Homo sapiens: one gene and its partner. The protein of the gene in region 1 interacts with the protein of each later gene in a biochemical or structural test. Each region holds a gene or a part of one and is shown in the gene's direction. Other genes may lie near its edges. The genes, in order: RAB24 and RBSN.

Region 1 (8,129 bases):
AGGGTGCTAACGCCTTCACGCTCTCGCTCTTGTAGGGATCGTGACCAGGAGCTACAGACTGGTAGCCTTTGTTTGTTCTCTAGTTTTCTAAAAATTTAAATTAGCTGTCAATCCCTCAAAAGACATTTGACATGAAAAATCTGACTTTCCAGCTAGCTTCTCGTAAAGAAATGGGGGGCCGGGCGCGGTGGCTCACACCTATAATCTCAGCACTTTAGGAGGCTGAGGCAGGCGGATTACCTGAGGTCAGGAGTTTGAGACCAGCCTGACCAATATGGTGAAACCCCGTCTCCACTAAAAATACAAAAATTAGCTGGGCATGGTGGCGGGCCCCTGTAGTCCCAGCTACTTGTGAGGCCGAGACTAGGGAATTGCTTGAACTTAAGAGGTGGAGGTTGTGGTGAGCCGAGATTGTGCCACTGCACTCCAGCCTGGGCGACAGAGCGAGACTCTGTTTCAAAAAAAAAAAACAAAAAACAAAAGAAACGGGGAGACCTGGTAACACCGGGCCTGTTTCCCATGACAGCACATGCCTGGCTCCTGAGCCAGAGTGTACACGCAGCAGTGCACCCTGCTCCCAGTTCCCACCCCTGGACGCCACAGCACTCCAGTCCTTTATCCTTGACTAGGCCCCAAATGCCTTTGAGATTGTGGTGCCCCCCCACCCCCAATCTAGGCAGCACCCTGACAGGACGTGTGCATGGCCGGAAAGGGGCTGGCTTTCTGGAGGATGTGGGTGCAACCCTCTGGGGCCTGGATTTAGTCGCCACCTGCCCGGAGTGGGCATTGGCCCTGTGGCCGTGGCCCGGTACTGAGTGGTGCTGGGGTGCAGCCCAAGCCCCCACGCCGCTGACCCCAGCCCCTTGCTCCTTTGGGATCCGCAGAAGCTGGAGGATCAGGAGCAGCGGGCCCGACAGCTCAAGGAGAGGCTGCGCAGCAAGCAGCAGAGCCTGCAGCGGCAGCTGGAGCAGCTCCGGGGGCTGGCAGGGGCGGCCGAGCGGGAGCGGCTGCGGGCGGACAGTCTGGACTCCTCAGGCCTCTCCTCTGAGCGCTCAGACTCAGACCAAGGTGAGTGCCCCGAGGCTGAGGGGTTGTGTGGCCCTCGGGGCGAGCCAGGTCTTCTGACCGGACCCCTCCCCGCGCAGAGGAGCTGGAGGTGGATGTGGAGAGCCTGGTGTTTGGGGGTGAGGCCGAGCTGCTGCGGGGCTTCGTCGCCGGCCAGGAGCACAGCTACTCGCACGGCGGCGGCGCCTGGCTATGATGTTCCTCACCCAGGGCGGGCCTCTGCCCTCTACTCGTGCCAGGCCCACTTGCCAGGCAGGAGCCCTCCCCAAGCCTTCAGGGCTGCTCGGAGTCACCTGTTGGAATGGACTAAAAGGACCCTTGTGTGGGAACAGGTGCTCCCCAAACACCCTGCTGCTGGCTGCCAGGCAGGCCCTCTGGAAGGGAAGGGGCAGGACTCATCAGGACCTCCCTGGACCCCTGCAGGGCAGGCAGCTTGGGCCCGAGCCCAAGCATTTGGCTCTGCTGCCCCCAAGGGGACAGGAAGCCTCTTGGGCCTCTTCCCTTCCTGGACAAGGCCCCCTGCCTTTGCCTCACATAAACTGTACAGTATTTTCATTAAAAGCCTCTTTCATAACTTCCCGTCCATAGTCTTGCCTAATGAAAACGGGGGAACTCCCAACCACAGACCCACTGGAAGAGGAAATAATATCAGTTCCCATCACTGACACTGTTGGCCGTGCCAGGCAGTGCACTTAATTCTCACAACTTGAGGCTGTTCTGTCTCCACTTCACGGATGGTAGAAATGAGGCTGAGTGACGTGACTCGCCTGAGGTCCAAAAACAGTGAAGCCAAGATTCAAACCAGAGCCTTCCGACTCCAGAGCTGGGGCCAACTGAATTCAACAAGTATTTATTGAGTGTCTATTATGTGCTAGATACTGAGACACATCAGAGAACAAAACCAAAAGCCCTGCCCTTGTCGGGCTTACAGTCTAGCACTTACCGCCAGTTAACCTGCAGGCTACCTGGAGCCCCGGGCAAGTCACCGCACCTCTGTGCCTCGGTCCTCAGCTGCCCAATGGGAGAATAAGCAGACCTGGCTCAGACATGAATCATGTGCTTGGTGTACTGCAGATGCCAAACTGCATCCCCACAACCCACCACGTAGACAGCAGACAGGGCTGGAAGTTGATTTTTAATGATAAAGTACAATGAAGGGAGGGCAGAGAGGCTAAGCCTAGCTGTCTGGGGTGCTGTGGTGGTGGTAGACTGGCTACACAAACTGTTGCTGCTGCTGCTGCTTCTTGGTGGCCGCCTTGCTGGCGAGGTCCTTGGCCTTCTCTGTAGCTGCCAGTGCCGTCTCCTTTGCCTTCTCCTTGGCTTCCTTGGCTGTCTCAACAAGTGTTTTGGAAGGGGCCTCGCCTGTCGCGAACGGCAGGTGGCTGCCTTTAGAAGATGCCTGAAAGACCAACCTAATTTCCCTCCCCCATGACACCAATCTCCTCTGGGCCAGGCTCCACTAAAAAGGTGGTATTCACCCTCCTCCCACCCCCAGTACAGACAAGGAGTCCCAGCTCAGAGCAGGGCAATGACTAACCCAGACTCCACGCCCGCTAGGCTGAATGAGCCTCTCCCTATGAGGAATATCCACATACCCAGAAACTCACCTTGCAGCTTAGCCAAGATATATTCAAAACCCTTCATAGTCTTGGTCACGTTGCTTTTGAATCGGGCAAGACCAAATTCCTGGCATGAGATGAGAATGGGAAGGATACTGAGTTGCCCACTGACCCCAGCCCAGCCCCAACACCGAAAGCACTGGGTCCCAGAGCCCCAGCAGCCCCAACAACACTGCTCACCTGGACAGCTCTGGAGACACCAAATAAGCTAGAGGAGACCCAGGCTTCCCGGCGGATTTCAGTCCAGCCACTGTTGTCAGAGTTCACACAGTAAACACATCGTTCCTCCACCACCTATGCAGAGGCCAACCACAATCGTGGAACAGTCTTTCATTTTGCCAACTTGCACATAAATCTGACTCCCTGTCACTTTTCATGAGGCGAAGCAATACAATGAAAATCCATTCCTTCCCCTGACTGCACCTCCAAGTGGCACTGACAGAACAAGAAGCCATAAATAAGGTCGTTTTGCTCTCGAAAACCTCTCTTCTGACTCTTAAACTAGAAGGCAAAAGGTCTCTCTCTTGAGATCAACAAAGGGCCTTCCAGCCCATCCTGCTCCTGGATTTTGTTTTGTGCATCTAGACGCATGCAGTGTTTTAGCCGCCTTCCACCAGCTGCAGCTCTGGAGCTTCCTGACAGTCCAAATAAAAACATTTGCCCGGCGCGGTGGCTCACGCCTGTAATCTTAGCACTTTGGGAGGCCGAGGCGGGCGGATCACTTGAGGTTAGGAGTTCGAGACCAGCCTGGCCAACATGGTAAAACCTTGTCTGTACTAAAAATACAAAAATTAGCCAGGCGTGGTGGTGTGTGCTTAGAAATCCACCTCTTCAGAAGGCTGAGGCACGAGAATTGCTTAAACCCAGGAGGTGGCAGTGGCAGTGAGGTGAGATCATGTCACTACACTCCAACCTGGGTGAGACTCTTGTCACCAGAAAAAAACAAAAAACAGAAAAAAAAAAAAGAAAAGCACTGCCTCCGCCACTCAGCATCACTCCTGTGAGTCCAACATATATCTGTGCCATAGATGCCAGATGGGAGCGCTTTGCATTTAGAACTTAGGACAACTCCGTAAGATAGGTACCCCTCCCCCACTGTATGAATGAGTCAAAGGACAGGTCCAGAGAGGATGGCCAGCTGAAAAGAAGAAAACCTGAGGTCATACTCTACAGCTGTCAACCCTCAGTAACCCAGACCTGCCTCCGGCCACAAAAGCTGCCTTATGGCTCTCTAGCCACATGTATCTGAGGAGCTCTCTATCTCGGGGGGAGGGGAGAGGGGGAGGTGCAGAATCACAACAGGAGGTGTCTCACCATCAGCCGGGCGTGGTTGATGTTCCAGGTGAAGGTAGTCATGGTCTGATTCTGTGGGTCCACAATAGAGTCCTCCAGGACGTACACCGAGTGAGCAACATTGGCAGGAAATAGTCGCTCGGCCCAGCGTGGCATCCTGTTGGTCTTGGTCAGGAGTCGCCGGGACAGCAGTTTCTGGTCAGGGGTCACCTCCCGGTGTACTATGTCTTCCGTCAAGACATGTTTGCTGCAGGTGTCAGGGTGAAGGTGACCCTCAGAAGCTTGCCCCTAAGAGACTGCCCGAGGGGATTCCCATTTGGAGGCTCCGGGCCTAGAGAGGCCACGCCTTCCCGTAACCTTGCAGGGTGGTATGTGCTATGGTTCAAACCAGAGTTAAGGGCCCATCCCAGGGCAAATTCCCACTCCCGCCATCTGACTGACCTGGATTCCTGCCTTCTAGCAGGAATGGACCTCATGATTTATTGCACCCCAGGAAAGCGCCACGGGCAGAGAAATAGGATTTCCAACTCCAAGATCCCTCCCAACTCCCATACTGCCGCCTCTTCTTGTCTCACCACACTGAGAAAAGAATCTTACACTAAGGTCTCAAGTAAACCACCACCCAGGCCCAACCTCCCTTCAGGACCTTGCAGGCCTGGCCTGGCCGCTTCCCCGATAAGGTCTACCTAGGATTCGATATCGAGTCCTTCCTGGTCCCAGTACTTGGGGGTTACCCATAATTCGATCTCCAGATAGCGAGATGGCGCGGTTTTGCTCTTCCAAATACCACGTACCTATAGGGATTCGGGTACCGCTGCCAGAAGGCGGCGAACACTTGGTCCCAGGAACTCCGGAGCACGCTCTGGCCCAGGAAATACTTCACCATCGTCCCGGCCGAAGCGGGCTCAGCACCCGCGCAGCATCAGGGGTGCGGAGCCTGGGAGGCACGCGAGGGCCGGGCCGGGCCGGGGCTCGGCGCACACCCGCCGCCAGGCTCGTAGCTCAGTCACCACCGCACCGCGCCCAAGCAGCTGCCGCCGCCGCCGCCGCCGCCATGAGTTGTCCGGCCGCGCGCCACTTCCGGCGCAGCCACACAGTAGCCACCGCTTCCGGCGCCCGCGCCACGTGACCTTGCGGCCCCGCCCCCTCGCCCTCTAGCCCCCTCCCGCGGGAGTCGCGGCGCTGCGGGTAGGAGCCGGGTTGCGGGAGACCCCAGGTTCGGTTGGGATTCCCAGCCAGAACGGAGCTTAAGCCGGGCAGGCGAGCGAATGACGGAGTAGCGAGCTGCACGGCGGCGTGCTGCGCTGTTGAGGACGCTGTCCCGCGCGCTCCCAGGCCGCCCCGAGGCTTGGGGTCTTCGAAGGATAATCGGCGCCCGGGGCCGAACAGCGGGGGCACACGGGGCGCTGCCGAAGTGCAAGGCCACGGCCAGAGCTCGAGCCCGACGCGCTGTCTGGAGTCGTAGGTTGGCGCCGTTTGGGGTCGGGGTCTGAGGCTTGGGCGCTGCCTGGGCCGAGCGGAGATCGGGGTTTGCCTCCCGTCCCCGCTCAGGACCCTGACGTGGCTGAAGCGGCCCCGGGAGCATGAGCGGGCAGCGCGTGGACGTCAAGGTGGTGATGCTGGGCAAGGAGTACGTGGGCAAGACTAGCCTGGTGGAGCGCTACGTGCACGACCGCTTTCTGGTGGGGCCTTATCAGAACGTGAGTGCATCCGGAGGGGCCAGGCACGGTGGGCGGGGGAGTGGGGGGCCGGTAATCTGCACCTATGGCCCCGATCTCTTCCCTCTCGTTGCAGACCATCGGGGCCGCCTTCGTGGCCAAGGTGATGTCGGTCGGAGACCGGACTGTGACATTAGGTATTTGGGTAAGTCCCCCGGCCATCTATTCTTGGGAGACTCATTCCTGAGGAGGTGTAGGTCCTGCCTATTACTGGTTGATTTGTGGCCTCACAGACCCATTTCTCATAGACCCGTTTCCTTATCTGGAAAATAGCGGGGTCTGGAGAACGTGGCCTTAAGTTTGACTCAGGCCTTACTCTTTAGGACACAGCAGGCTCTGAGCGCTATGAGGCCATGAGTAGAATCTACTATCGGGGTGCCAAGGCTGCCATCGTCTGCTATGGTAAGGGGGGGGGGGGTTTGGGCTGTCTCACAAGAAAAGATGGGTGCCAGGCTAGCCAGAGAACAGCCCTTGACCACTTGGTTGTCTCCTGCATGCCGCACACCAAGACCTCACAGACAGCAGCAGCTTTGAGCGAGCAAAGTTCTGGGTGAAGGAACTGCGCAGCCTAGAGGAGGTAGGTGAACAGACCTCACTAGAACACTAGGGGCTGGGGTTTTGTTGGCCTGTGGAGGTGACCCTTGTCTTCTGCCTCAGGGCTGCCAAATCTACTTATGTGGCACCAAGAGTGACCTGCTGGAAGAAGACCGGAGGCGTCGACGTGTGGACTTCCACGACGTCCAGGACTATGCAGACAGTAGCTGCTCCTCAGCCCTTTGGGGGGTGGGGGTGTGTGGCTGTCTGGGTGGATCAAAGAAAATAGGGACTGCCTTGGCTGCCAGGGCAAGGTGCTCTAGGAGGTCTTCCTGGCCTCCTTGAACTGTGGGGTCCAGGAGACTCCCTGAACTGCTAGCCCTCCCTTTTGTCTGTTTATCTAATTCTCAGGTATGAGGCTTTAGTCACTTCTCTTTACAGATATCAAAGCTCAGCTCTTTGAAACATCCAGCAAGACAGGCCAGAGTGTGGGTGAGTGCTGTGCTGGAGCCTCACAGCAGGAACATGCAGGGGCACCAGAGGAAGCTGAATAGGGCACAGAGGGCTGGGTCACTGGGAGATCCCAGGGCTACTGGCATTGGGCCCTCGCTGATCATCATTTTTCCTGCCAGACGAGCTCTTCCAGAAAGTGGCAGAGGATTACGTCAGTGTGGCTGCCTTCCAGGTGATGACAGGTGTGTGCTTCCCCAGCCTTTATGGAGACTTACTCTAGGCCCACAGCATCTAGCCCCTTTCCTGAGTTACCTGATCCCAACAGAATGGTGCTGAGCTGCCACCTCTCTTTTTGACAGAGGACAAGGGCGTGGATCTGGGCCAGAAGCCAAACCCCTACTTCTACAGCTGTTGTCATCACTGAGTCAGCACTCACCTGGCCTGGGGGAATTAAAGGAATTCCCCGTAAGGGCTGGACCCAGCTCCTTTCTGGGCTTGGGTAGTCAAATGTCTGAGCTACCCCAGGTCCTCATGTCAGCAGAGTGGCGCCTGCCTGTGCTGGCCCATGGAACGGAGACAGCATTGGGCTGACTGTGGGCATGAGGAGGGATAAGGCTGATTTGGACCCCAGGCTTCTGCCCTGGACAGCACTTGTGTCTGCAGATTATTTAAGTGGCTTTTGATCTGTAAATAAAATCAGTGCACTGTGCATCACACCCAGCCCCTTTCCCTGCTGTGTGGATTAGGTGTCAAGACACCTAGTTCTTCCTGGGGCCACCCGGCTGGCCTCACTGCTTATATTAAGGCTCCTCCCAACTCTCATTTTCCTTTGGAAAACAAGACTTTTTTCCCCATGGTTACCGCTGAGATACTGGGGCTGTAGTAGTATAAAAGCTCACAGTTCCTTCTGAGTGCTGAAAAGAGTGCATGAGTTGCTTCGAAATAAAAGGGTCAAGCATTCCTACCTGAGACAGGTTGGTCTGACTAGCTCTACTGCATCTGTCATGTTTGGGCCCCTATGTCAGACCTGTGACTCAGGTCCTGAGCTTCCCAGTGACATCCTACAATGTGGTTTAATGGTAGGAAAGTCCTAAGTTCTGTAAGCCAGAAAGGTCTAATGGATCCAGATTTGGTTCCAATTCAGCTGCTAATTTAGAAAAGGGACTTAAATCCTCATCTTGAGTTTCTCATCTGTAAAATAAGGTGACTACTATGCAGCCCAAGGATTGTGAAGAAAGTGAAGAGTAACTCTAGTACTAAATGTTTTTCCCAATCTTCCCAAGCACTTTTTGCTGAAAGGGCAGGAAGTTCAGGACTAGGTCACAAAGGGAAGCAAACTCCCAAGTTTTCCCCAAAGAAGATCCAGATATTTCTGAGGAATCAGGTGTTAACTGTAAACAGGGCTGACACTTGCTGCTCAACCAGAAGGAAATTTATTGCAGCCCTT
Region 2 (7,264 bases), on another chromosome or scaffold:
CCAGTTTGCCTGAATTGGCTTTTTTCCCTTCTTCTTTTCTTTCTTAGGGCTCCTCCTACTCCAGAGAGGAAACCTCATCCAGGGCCATGAAGCCACTTCCTCACCATCTGTGTGCTGCTTAAGCTAATGCTGCGGGAACCATGGTTCCTTGGGAGGAATCAAGCTGACTCTTGGCATGAGATTCCTGCCTTCCTAGGGTTGAGAGCGGCACTGCCATGGCTTCTCTGGACGACCCAGGGGAAGTGAGGGAGGGCTTCCTCTGCCCTCTGTGCCTGAAGGATCTGCAGTCTTTCTATCAGCTTCACTCACATTACGAGGAAGAACACTCAGGGGAAGACCGTGATGTCAAAGGGCAAATTAAAAGTAAGAGGCGAGGACCTTGCCTATCCCCTGCTGTCGTTGAGAGCTTTAACTCACGGGATAGTTCTCATCAGCTTTGGTGTTGCCACAGGAATATGATAATAGTAGTAGCAAACAGATGACTAGTGTTTGTCATGTGCCAGGCGTTTTCAGAGTTTCCCTGTTTATTAATTTCATTTAATCCTCACAATAACTGTGTGGCTGTAAGCCACATTTCGAACCAGACACAGAGAGATTAGATAACTTGTCTGAAGCCACTCAGAGAAACAATCTGACTTTGAGTCTAGTAAATGTAATTGCTGTGATCTGGCTTGACTGTTCTTTAACCACCAGCCTAACAGGGTTTGGAGAGGAATTTCTTTCCTTTGCTATGATGATGGAGGCACATTATGCACCCATTTTACCTGTCACAAATTTAAGACTTCCCACCATCCTTCCTTCCCCAATTGGTATCTTGCCCTCTATAGCCCAGAAAAAGGAAGGTCATAGTCGAAGAACAAAACAACCTAAAAACCTTGGTTTTTGAGCTTCCAAGAGCTCAGGTTTGAGAGAGTTGTGGAAAGAATTTTTCAAAGGTACTTTTCACTATACATATGTTTATTGTATTTCCTGGACATCAAATTCTAACCTCCAGATAAGATGCTGCTCCTCTGGGCGGGCACAGTGGCTCACGCCTCTATTCGCAGCACTTTGGGAGGCCAGAGTGGGCAGATCACTTGAGCTCAGGAGTTCAAGACCAGCCTGGGCAACATGGCGAAACCCCGTCTCACAAAAAAAATTAAAAAAAAAAACAACTAGCCGGGCGTGATGGTGCACGCCTGTAGTCCCAGCTACTCAGGAGACTGAGGTAGGAGGATCACTTGAGCCCAGGGAGGTCAAGGCTGTAGTGAGCGATGATCATGCCACTGCACTCGCACCTGGGCAACAGAGAGAGAGACACACACACACACAAACACACACACGCCAAAGATGCTGCTCCTCTGGAACTTATTTTGTAGTTATTCAGCTAACTTGCTTCTCACAGCTGGCAGCATTTCTGAAGGCCTTGAGATTAAAGAGTTCTGGATGTTGTATTCAAAGTCTTTATTGGGAGAGAAAGAAAGGAATGATCATGTATTTCTAAGTGGACTTCAGCTTTCAGACAGGTGAATCATATGCACTTTGTAATCAGATATTTGTCCCTAGAGTCTCACTCTATCTCACTTTTCTGTTCAGTAAAAAAGAGTTTCTAAAAGCATAAACAGTTATAACTTCTATCCAAAAACAACAAAGGCAAACATTTCTGAAATCCTGAGGGCTTTGGTGGATGAGGTGGCTTCTGGCTGTAGAGGCTATAGAACAGAGCCAAAACTATTAGGAGGGAAAAAAATGCTGTGCTTTATAGTTTTTAGAGTTTCTTTCACAGACATTATTGTTTCATCTGACTCTCCTAACAACTCTGCAAGAAGGTGATTGGTCTCATTTTACAGATAGTAAGTGAAGTGAGGCTCAAGAGATGTTGAGTTACTTATCCACGGTCACACAGGAATTGGCAGAGCTAGGCCTGGAACGTAGGTCTTCTGTCATCTGTAAATCCAGTGCTGCCCTTTGCACGTGACATCACTGAGGGTGAGAGGCCCCGTGTTCCAATCACAACATGCATTGCAGCTTCCTGGGGGAAATGAAGCAAAAACAAAACTAAAAAACCTGATTATGTAAGTTTCCTTTGGACAACCGAAGAGCTTCCATCATTTTCAACTAGCTTCCAGTCTTGGTGTCAGCTGAACTAAGTCCTATACAATGCCATTGCTCAACCTGGTGATACCAGTGGGTAGAGAGGTTAGAGAATGTTCCCGGATTCCTACAGTGACCCTTTTTTAAGAGGAAAAATGTTTAAGGTTATTTAGAGAATACAGATATGGGAATCTATTTAAGGAATACTAAATAGAATAGAAATTTTGTGCCTTGTGAAAGAAACTTGAAAGGATCCTTGGCTGGGCACAGTGGCTCACATCTGTAATCCCAGCACTTTGGGAGGCCATGGCGGGAGGATCGCTTCAGCTTAGGAGTTTGATACCAGCCTGGGCAACATAGATCCTGTCCAAAAATAAAAAAAAATTTTTTTTAATTAGCTGGGCATGATGACATGCATTTGTAGTCCTAGCCACTTGGAAGGCTGAGGCAGAAGGATCCCTTGAGCCCGGAAGGTTGAAGCTGCAGTGAGCCATGATTATGCCACTGCACTCCAGCCTGGGCAGCAGAGTGAAACTCTGACTCAAAAACAAAAAAACAAAATAAAGTTACTTCAGCCGGGTGCGGTGGCTCATGCCTGTAATTCTAGTACTTTGGGAGGCCAAGGCAGGAGGATTGCTTGAGCCCAGGAGACCAGACTGGGCAACATAGCGAGACCATTTCTACAAAAAAATCATTTAAAAAAATTAGCCAGTCATAGTGGCACGCACTCGTAGTCCCAATTACCCAGGAGGCTGAGGTGGGAGGATCGCTTCAGCTCAGGAGATCAAGGCTGTTACATTCTAGCCTGAGCAACAGAGTGAAACTGTCTCAAAAAAAAGAAAGAAAAGATCCTCTTGGTTTTTCCCTTTATTTCCCACCCTGCCTTACCCCCGACATCTCTACCTCTAGTACTATTAATGATCATGTCTTTAGTTAGAAAGGAATTCTTGATTATGTTGCAGTTTTCTGCATTTCAGAATCAGGAAAGTAAAGTTTTAAGGATTGACATGAAAGGTTTTTTGAAAAGCCCTTTAGAAAGCAGATTACGTCTCCATTTGGTCTTTTGATTCTTAGAAATGTTATGACATGGTTAGTTTTGGGCAAGTGAAAAGTTAAAGCCAAAAGAGTGAACCTTAGTATTAGGTTTTGGGGGCAGTTCAAAAAAGAAAAGATAGATTAGTCATTAGTAAAAAGTTAGTGGGTTCGGGGCCCAGTCCTGGTTCAGCTCCAGTCTAGCCCATTTTCAGTAAGTAGAAGAAAAGATAGCTGAAAATTGACTGTGGCTTCTTGCTTTGTTAGTGTTTTTTAAAATATATGGGATTATTTTTAATTGGCCTTCTCTGGAAGGGCTATGTCCTTTCTGGGAACATTGCCAGGCAGTTTTTCTATCTCCTAAAAGTGGTTAAATGGTATAGATTGCCTGTTTAACCTGATACTTTAGTCTTGTTTGCAAAAATGAATTGTTACTTGCTAACTCACATTCCTGTTTGCTAGACCCTTTGTTCACATCAGGCAGTTTTCTCTCCCCTGTTACTAGAAAAGACTGCTTTAGGCCAGGGACAGTGGCTCATGCCTGCAATCCCAGCACTTTGGGAGGCCGAGGTGGGCAGATCATCTGAGGCCAGGAGTTTAAGACCAGCCTGGCCAATGTGGTGAAACCCCATCTCTACTAAAAAAAATACAAAAATTAGCTGGGTGTGTTGGCACGTGCCTGTAATTTCAGCTACTCGGGAGGCTGAGGCAGGAGCATCCCTTGAACCCCTGGAAGGCAGAGGTTGCAGTGAGCTGAGATTGCTGCCATTGCATTCCAGCTTGGGCAACAAGAGTGAAACTCTGTCTCAAAAAAAAACAAACAAACAAACAAAAAAAACCCACTTTAGTGCATTTTAAAGGATGTCCTTTTGTTTTAGTATTTTTCCAGTTTGGACAAAGCTGTCCCACAGTGACCAATAATCAGGAAGTTTGCTTATTGGCTTGACCGTCTTAAAAAAAAAAAAAGACAAGTGTATTCTTATCAATCTCACCCTCAGCCTGCGAACCTGGGCAACATCTCTACAAAAAAATGTTTTATAAAATAATTTACCTAGTCATGGTGGCGCACACCTATAGTCCCAGCTACTTGAGAGACTGAGGCGAGAGGATCGCTTGAGCCCAAGAGATCAAGGCTGCAGTGAGCTATGATCAGCCACTGCACTCCAGCCTGGGTGACAGAGCAAGACCCTGTCTCTAAAAAATAAATAATTAAAAAGTAAAAGTAATGATACCATTTTATATTCAGTCTGATATTTTCTACTAGATTCTGGTGGAAGAAAGGGATAGCAGTCATCCAAGATTAAAGAACATTCATGAGAGAGCGTCTTAGAACTGAGAATTCTTCCCGCCCCACACCAGCTGATTGTTCAGTTTAACAGGTGGTTCTCTGCACCAGCACAGGTGGCAGAACCCATGTTCTGCAGAGGCATAGTTTGTGAATCAGGACTAGCGGGGGAGAGCTGGAGCTCTCATTTCAGGCACATGAGGTGTCTACTTCCAGCCCTGCTGTTACCTGTAAGCTCTGTGATCTTGGGTGAAGCAAGTTCTTCCCTGTCTTTGATGTCGTTTCCTCATTTGTAAGTAGGGCTATCACCTGCCTTATAACATTGTAAGCATGAACTGGCATAATGTATTTGCAAGCACTTTGCGTTGTACCTGGTACATACGATGGCTAAATACAGGAAATGTTCATTTTCTCTTCTTACCCAATCTGGTTCTGTTTGTGTTATGTTGTAGATGTTATATCTGTTTCTTGAAGCTTTTTGCAAGTATTCTCACATGCATTCAATAAGTGCGTGGGCAGTAGTGGGGAAGCAAGAACTCTGTGTCCAGTTAAGCCTATGGGGAACACCAGTCCACGGATGGAGGTTTAGCTGAATCCCATCCTGGAGGTAAATGAGAAGAATTTACTCATGAGTTTCTGGGGTAAATGAATTAGTACTATAGAACTTGTTTTTTAAAAAACATTATTTTAACTGAGGTATAGTTTTAATTTTTTTTTTTTTTTTTTTTTTTTTTTGAGACAGGGTCTCATTCTGGTTGTCCAGGCTGGAGTACAGTGGCACAATCTCAGCTCACTGCAGCCTCGACCTCCTGGGCTCAGGTGATTCTCCCACCTCAGCCTCCCAAGTAGCTGGGACTACAGGTGCATGCCACAACACCCAGCTAGTTTTTTGTATTTTTAGTAGAGATGGGGTTTTGTCATGTTGCCCAGGCTGGCTTGAATTCCTGGACTCAAGCAATTTGCCTCCCTTGTGGGATTACAGGTGTGAGCCACTGCGCCTGGCCCAATTCAAAAAGTTTTCAAAAATGTATATACCCACTTCACCACCACTCCAATTAAGATAAAGAAGAAAACACTTCCATCACCCTGTTTTCCTCATCAAATTTGATTTTAGCACTTTTATTTAATTGTGCTCTTAAATTTGGCAATGAGCAGTAATTTAGCCCATATGTTGGCCGCCTAAACCAATTTAATGCTAATATTGATTAACTAGTGTATTGCTCTGTGGTATTTGTAATATAGTGTTTGTGTGCTTGCTCCTGCATTTTACTTGAGATCTAAATATTTCTGGTGCATTTTTAAACAAACGATAATTATTTCGTCAACTCTTGTTTTTTGAGATTTCTTTTGACTGTTTACTGGGTGTTCTTCATGGCTCATTTGTATTATTTGTTCCATTTTTCAAGGTCTTGTCCAGAAGGCTAAAAAAGCAAAGGACAGGTTGTTGAAACGAGAAGGGGATGATCGAGCAGAGTCAGGGACCCAAGGATATGAGTCTTTCAGCTATGGAGGGGTTGATCCTTACATGTGGGAACCCCAGGAGCTTGGTAAGAAAATTCATTTATTCATTCAGCAAGTGGTTATTGAGCATCTGCTATGTTCTAGGTAAAGTTTTAAGAGTTGGCTGAGGAGGCATCAGTAAACCATAATGGTCTAAGCTTCTCATGGACCTTATGCCCTTGCTGGGGGAAGAAAATGGAAGAGAACCAGCTGAGCATCCACTTTGTGTTAGGCACTACATTAAGTGCCTTATACCCATGGTCTTGTTAGATCTTCACTGCACCTCATGAGAACCTGCCCAGGGACAAACAGTGAGTAAACTGCAGAAGTAGGGTATGAATCCATATCTCTCTGACGTCAGCCCAGGCATAGAGTCCATTAATGATTCTTTCCTCTCACATAGGACATTACCTGCCCAGTGACAGGCACTGGTTTATGCAGCTTACTTTTTTGAATAATTATAGTAACATCTACCTACTTTCATGTTTTTGGGATGATAAAAATTCTCTAACATTTATTATGATGATTGTACAACTCTGAAAATCCTAAGCTGGGCGCGGTGGCTCACACCTGTAATCCCAGCACTTTGGGAGGCCGAGGCGGGCAGATCACGAGGTCAGGAGATCCAGACCACGGTGAAACCCCGTCTCTACTAAAAATACAAAAAATTAGCCGGGCGTGGTGGCGGGCGCCTGTAGTCCCAGCTGCTCAGGAGGCTGAGGCAGGAGAATGGCGTGAACCCAGGAAGCAGAGCTTGCAGTGAGCTGAGATCGTGCCACTGCACTCCAGCCTGGGTGACAGAGTGAGACTCTGTCTCAAGAAAAAAAAAAAAGAAAAGAAAATCCTAAAAACCACTGAATTTGCTTTAAATGGTGTATGTATGTGAATTATATCTCAATAAAGCTATTTATCATGCCAGTCACACTTAGTTGAACTATCTAATCTTACATATCTGTTTTTTTTTTTTGTTTTTTTTTTTTTTTTTTTTTGGAGATGGAGTCTCACTGTGTCACCCAGGCTGGAGTCCAGGGCTCCGTCATGGCTCACTGCATTCCAGGCTCAAGTGATCTCTCACTTCAGCCTCCTCAGTAGCTAAGACTACTGGTGCACACCATCCATCACACCTGGCTAATTTTTGTATTTTTTGTAGAAACAGGGTCCTATGTTGGCCAGGCTGGTCTTGAACTCCTGGGCTCAAGTGATCCTCCCATCTCAGCCTCCCAGAGTGCCAGGATTACAGGTGTGAGCCACTACGCCTGCCTACATATCCTTTAACCGTCTAATGATAACAGTCATTAATATAATAAAATATTTTCTGTCCATGAAATGGGTAATTATTCCTTTATTTATTTATCATTCCCTTGTGATTTATTC

What was found.
Region 2: the proteins of RAB24 (region 1) and RBSN form a complex in vitro, tested with the Homo sapiens proteins (one study listed by BioGRID).

Annotation. Positions count from the first base shown.
Region 1 is NC_000005.10:177,300,720-177,308,848, reverse strand, and holds RAB24 (ras-related protein Rab-24), read left to right. Parts: upstream 1-5,129; 5' UTR 5,130-5,560; coding exon 5,561-5,677; intron 5,678-5,771; coding exon 5,772-5,840; intron 5,841-6,018; coding exon 6,019-6,097; intron 6,098-6,204; coding exon 6,205-6,272; intron 6,273-6,352; coding exon 6,353-6,452; exon of another isoform or gene 6,453-6,670; coding exon 6,671-6,721; intron 6,722-6,861; coding exon 6,862-6,924; intron 6,925-7,041; coding exon 7,042-7,106; 3' UTR 7,107-7,651; downstream 7,652-8,129. Other genes in the region: MXD3 (max dimerization protein 3), read left to right, coding at 885-1,068, 1,146-1,261; PRELID1 (PRELI domain-containing protein 1, mitochondrial isoform 1 precursor), read right to left, coding at 2,279-2,427, 2,673-2,751, 2,865-2,978, 3,999-4,224, 4,772-4,863.
Region 2 is NC_000003.12:15,089,072-15,096,335, reverse strand, and holds part of RBSN (rabenosyn-5), read left to right. Parts: intron 1-47; 5' UTR 48-215; coding exon 216-363; exon of another isoform or gene 364-665; intron 666-4,842; exon of another isoform or gene 4,843-4,997; intron 4,998-5,796; coding exon 5,797-5,937; exon of another isoform or gene 5,938-6,176; coding exon of another isoform or gene 6,177-6,201; intron 6,202-7,264. UniProt on the Homo sapiens protein: Rab4/Rab5 effector protein acting in early endocytic membrane fusion and membrane trafficking of recycling endosomes. Required for endosome fusion either homotypically or with clathrin coated vesicles.